Linked DNA regions of Homo sapiens: region 2 is linked to region 1. The links come from fine-mapping of genetic effects on plasma protein levels. A gene starts in region 1. The other region holds a variant in brackets. All regions are shown on one strand. Distances are from middle to middle.

The links. PIP is the posterior inclusion probability: the model's chance that the variant is causal. Protein levels are from the aptamer-based SomaScan assay of Sun 2018.
Region 2: its variant is fine-mapped to the plasma level of the IL1RAP protein (Sun 2018, PIP 0.95).

What each region holds. Positions count from the first base shown.
Region 1 is chr3:190,512,680-190,515,709 of GRCh38, reverse strand. It overlaps IL1RAP (interleukin 1 receptor accessory protein), which reads right to left and starts at 1,625. Exons shown (of 12, transcript NM_002182.4): 1 at 1,491-1,625. RefSeq lists enhancers at 435-934, 935-1,436, 2,189-2,278 and a silencer at 1,689-2,038.
Region 2 is chr3:190,628,401-190,630,900 of GRCh38, reverse strand. It overlaps IL1RAP (interleukin 1 receptor accessory protein), which reads right to left. Exons shown (of 12, transcript NM_002182.4): 9 at 1,403-1,551. Among named protein-coding and RNA genes, the nearest start is that of LINC02013, 70 kb to the left of the region's middle. The variant A/G (reference allele first, on the strand shown) is at 958.

The DNA of each region.
Region 1 (3,030 bases):
CTGCCTCTCACCCATTTCAAGACCCTCTTTGTCAATAAAGGATGTCTCAGATCAGGGCAGTTCACAGGCCTGAGGTTTGACCTAAAAACTAGTAGGAAATTCATATCACCGAGAAACATCAATTTTACATTTCGAGCTAAGCATCCATGATCCACATCACATATGGACAACATTCAGAAAATTCTTATTATAAAAGAGTTGCTCAAATTCAAAAGAAGAAAGACACCACATTTACAGATTTTTTTAAAATGCCTCTGTAAGATGGTATGAAATCACCTTTCTGAAAACCCACTGTCTGCAAGGTTACTATGTAACAATATTTACAATAGTTGCCATTGGTTTTGAACCAACCAGATGCCAGGCCAGGCACTGTGCTAAACATGCTACTTGAATGATCCCATTTCATCCTTCCAACTACCCAAAGGGCTCATTGTGACCATTATAAATCTCCATTTTTTGGCTGGAAAAAAAAAAAAGGAAGAAAGAAAGAAAAGAAAAACCCAGTATCGGAAAGGTGAGATAACTTGCCCAAGTTCACACTGCTAATACATGGAAGAGCTGGAGTCAAAACTCAAGTCCTCTTTCTCATCCAGTAGCTAAACCAGGGATCTGTACAGCAGAGCAGCAGAATGCTTCGCGTGGCGCCCTGGTTCACAATTTCACAACCAGAAGGTGGAGGGAAGACAGGCTGTGGGCTAGCTCTTAAAGGAAACAGCCGAAGTTTGCTTTTATGTTTGTGATTTTCTCTTTAACTCAGCTTCCTTGCTCCCTCTCAGTATTTAGAAGAGGGAAGGGGCTCTATGGTTCCATGAAGTCAGCTCTTCCCAAGTGAGGGGCACCCTGTGCCCCACAGGGCCACTAGCTCCGCTTCCTCCGGGGCTGGGAAGAAACAGTACCATAGGAGGTCACTGGCGCCCGGGCCTCGCTCCTCTCTCCCCGCGCTCCTCCAGAAGCTGGTCCGACACCCTCTGAAGGGGCATCTTTCTGAGAAAGCAGGTCAGGGGAAGAGGGAGTGAGGCTGCAAGCAGCATTTTCCCAGGCTGTCACAGCTCTGCGCTGAGAGCGACGTGATACCGAGTGGGCGTGCTGGGACACACCGCTTCCTTCTGTCCTCGGCGCTTCCAGCAGCGGTCTGGAGAAACCAAGGAGGAGATGGGGGCGGGGGGTGGTAGCGGGGAGGGGGCGGTGAGGAGGAAAACAAGGGTAGACCCCTCAAAGGGCTGAGGATGGGGGCGGCAACGAGCAGACGTCCCACAACCGCGTTACTTAAATCCCTGCAAAGCAAAGATGGGTCTCTGAACGTTTGGGTTCGAATCCGGGCTCCAGTCCTAACTAGCAGTATGACCTATCCCAGCCGCTGCCTCGTTCTGTGCCTCAGTTTCCTCTTCTGTAAAGTAGGAGGGTTTAACGATAGGATCTCTAAGAATCCGTCTACCCTGAGATTCTGCGGCTTGGTGACTTCTGAGCCCTCACGGCGGCGCGAGACTCACCTTTCTTGGGAAGCTGAGAGGGCGCAGCAAAAGCAGCCGGGATGGGTGCAGTGTCGCCGGGCACTGCTTCCTTCCGCGCCTCTGGCCAAAGCGGACCCCGGAGACCTGGATCCCGGCAGTCTTCCCCAGTGAGCCTCTTACTTTCCGCCGCACTTTCTTTTCCCCCTTTGGGGCTCCTCCCCCGGAGCGGCGCGATTGGCCACGGCCTCACGGCTCAGGCTCCACCCGCCGCCTTGGCTCGCGATCCACCGGCGCTCTGGGCTTCCAGGAGCTGCGGCCGCGGGGCGGCGTCCTGGACGGTCCCGCCCGCCGCCAGGAGGCGCGGCGCCGGGCCCGCCTGCGGACGGATGCAAGGCTGCGCTCGGCCCCTTCGGCTCCCTGCCACCGCCTGTGCGGGCTTGAGCGCGCGGGGAAAGGAGAGGGTTAGTCCTGCAGCGCAGCTCGGCACGCTGCCAGGCGCTGTGGGAAGCTACGCCCCTCACTACACACCGAGGCGCACACATGCGCTCATTGCAAGATCGTGCTCTCGCAGTTGAGATCGGTGCCACCCTGCCCTTTCTTCCTGTCTCGACGTATTTAGCAATCATGCTGCAAGGCCTTGAATCAATTCAGACTGCACGATTTTCGCAACCACCCTGTGCCGGCACAGAGCGCGGCAGGATGTAGATGCGATCTCCGCAGTCCTGAGCTCTTGCTGTCTTGAACTGACATTCATATGAGCAAGCAACAGGACATGACAGCAAGACTAAATCTGTATTGTCCACTGGTAATATACCCATTGCCTAGCACAGTGCCTGGCACAAAGTAGGCACTCAATACATGTATGGGGAACGAATAAAAGAACTAATAGGTTACATAGAAGGAAATAATCTCAAAACAAATATTTGCCTTCATTCATTTCCATTTCCCCAAGTTTTTGCAAGAGCCTTCCTTCAGCTGCCCTCTGCCACTGTAGATGGTAGTCTGTAATATATCCCGGGAAGCGTTATAAAGGCTTTCATTAAGTCATCTCTCTTGTTCAGGCACCTTCTGCTGTGTTCCTACTGCTAGTGCCTCATGATTTTTCCTGACTGGCAAGGCCCTTCATGACCTGTCCCCATTTCTGAAACCCCCTAACCAAAGCCACCTACCAGACTGACGAGTCTTCGCACATCTTCTTGCTCATCACATCTTCTTTTCTCCTCCTCCTACCTAACTGAATCCTACTAATTTATTTTCAAGAATCAAGATTCAGAGAAAGCATTTAAGGAAAAGGAGAAAAAAGATGTGAAATAAGAAAAGGGCCCAGGTGAGTGGGAAGGAAATGAAACCAGCAGGTGCCCGTGCTGCTAAAGGTGCACAGCAGTACGAAACTCAGAGGCTGCCCCTGCCCTGGCGGAGCTTCAGTTCCTAAGGTGAAATATCAGTGTAATTGGAGCCATAGAAATGTTCATGATACTTTACTTCTTGACATCACTTATGAAAATTAATTGCTCAAAATTTTTATTTATCTCAGGATACCTGGGACCCAGCACCTGCTCACAACATTGTCACTGAACCA
Region 2 (2,500 bases), 120 kb before region 1:
CCTTATAAGGTAGTGGTATTATTGTGTCTACTTTAAATATAAGGAAATTAAGGCTCAGAGAGATTTACTTTTCACAGAGTTAGGATGTGCAGAAACCAGAATTTCAACACAGGTGCTCTGATTCTAGAGTACAATAATGCATTGCAGGACAATACTGATTCTTAGTAGTGTTCCCGAGAACTCAATTTGGGAAACTGCCTTACATCATGTACTTCAGTCTTTCCTTTTCACACTGGCTTCTGAGGAGCAGAAGCAATGAATTACCCTGAACTGATTCACTAGTACTTCATACGCAGCATATACATTTCAGGCCTTTGCTATTTAGTTTTAAAGTTGTAATGAAAGTTTGAGGTGAATCCTGTTTTTCATCAGCTTTAAAAAAGCATTAAGTCTCTGTAAAATGTAACAATTATGTGCTATGTTATTCACTTTTGAAGAAATATTACACACTCTATAGACTAGGAGCCAGGAGGATTCTGAATGACCTGATTTCATGATTTCATGTGTGATAACTCATCATTACTTTTCTCAAGACCATTGAAAACATCCTTGAAGGGATTTTCTGGGATTCTGTGTTAGGTGAGAGACACAAAGAAAGTTTTAGACACAGTCTGATTTAGGAGCAGCACTTCTGACAAGAAGGCTTTATAATTTCCATTTATTGTAGAATAATATAGTACTATCAACATAGAAATCATGTTTATACCATTTAAAATCATAATTTAAATGATTTTCATTTTAGCAATTGTGGCTGCTGGTATATTATAAACCTGCTTAAATATTGATACATAGTGTTTAAAATAATATTATAATTATGCATTTTTGGAAAATAAACATTCAATACCTTAATTAGTTGCATACAATTGGATGGCTGCTATTAATAATGTTTTACAACTACAGATAATGCTTCTAATAATATTAAAAGGTATATAATTCCCTTTCTGTTATTTGTTCAGG[A/G]AAAATTCCGAAAGTCTTAGGTCAGATGATGCAATCTTTTTTATGACTCTTGAAGTCTACCATGAATGATTTTTAAAAGGGTCTTAATAATTCACCAACAATATGTGGCTCTACCAGTTTTTTCTATCTTTGGTAGCTTTGAATATTTTCTTTGTTTTTAATTTTTCATAATTGTACAGACACAAAATTGTGTCTCACTGTACTCACGTCGATTTTTTTAGCTACATTTGGGCATTACGGTACTAACAATATCAGAAACAATATTTTGAGTATCTTACATAGATGAAAACTTTCATATTTTTCATTTAAGTTTGATTCATTACTATGGGTTAGATGCCGTCGGGCTAGGTGCTGGAGCTCTCTTGTTCTCAATCTCTCCTTTTGTCCTTATTCACCACAATGTTAATTTGGAGCTGAGAGATTCATCACTGACCGCATCTATTACCTTTCTGCTTCACCTTGGCTGCTTTGGCAACTTCGCCTTTGGCACTTCTAGCATGACAGACATAGCTGCGCTTGAGATCCTCAGAGGTAACTTTCTTGATGCTCAAAATCTGAGTTCTTGTTTCATCTTCTGTTCTACTATGACTTATACTAGAAATAGAGAGAAGAAAATCAAAGCATTTGAGAGTGACTCAAGAGCTATGGACTGTGTAGGAATCAGACAAGTAAGCAACCACAGACCCCCACTACAGGTGAGGGCGAGGAAGGTTGATAAGCTGAGCCACCTATAATGCAGTGATTACAAAGTATTAATGGTAAGATTCTAACACTATACTATACCATCTACGCTACACACTATCCCATTGTCTAGACCAAATCCCAATACTGGCTTCTTTTTATAGATCTCTCTTCAAAACAAAATGTCTCTTTTGCTTAAACTTCTGAGCCAGGATGCTGTATCAGTTTAGAGAGAAGCTTCTGGGGCCAGGTCCTTTTGGGTTTTTATCCAGGATTTGTCAATTCCTGGCTATATACTTTGGGTGAGATAACTAATCTTTCCAGGTCTCAGGTTCCTCTTTTGGAAAAGAGGGAAGTCATAATGCCCACACAGTGCATTACATGCATTAATTTATTCAGGAATTCTGAGGACTGAATATGCTAAGGCATGAATATTAGAATAATGCTTAATAAATATTCATGTAGGTATTACTGTTATCCCATAGGAATAGCTGATGCATTTCAGTGATTCCCAAAGCATGGATTCTGAACACAGCTAGAATACTGTGGTCAGAAATCTGAAATCTCATGGTTAAATCCTAACATATAAAAAGAGAAAGCTGTTATGAACACGTAAACTTTGTAAAAATAAATATATCCAACTCTCAGTGAATCAGAGATCAAGTGTTTTGGGTCCAAGATCAGAATTTAAAATCCCTTTGAACTCCTTTACTTATCGCAGAGAAAAATCTCTCTGCTACAGCTGACTGCCATCTAGGTTCTCTTTTTAACTAGGCTTACTGTCAGGTATGAGAATTTGGTTAAGGGCTCTGATTGGTTTTGCTTAAGCTTAACGCCACTGCTATCCTATGAACACTGAGTA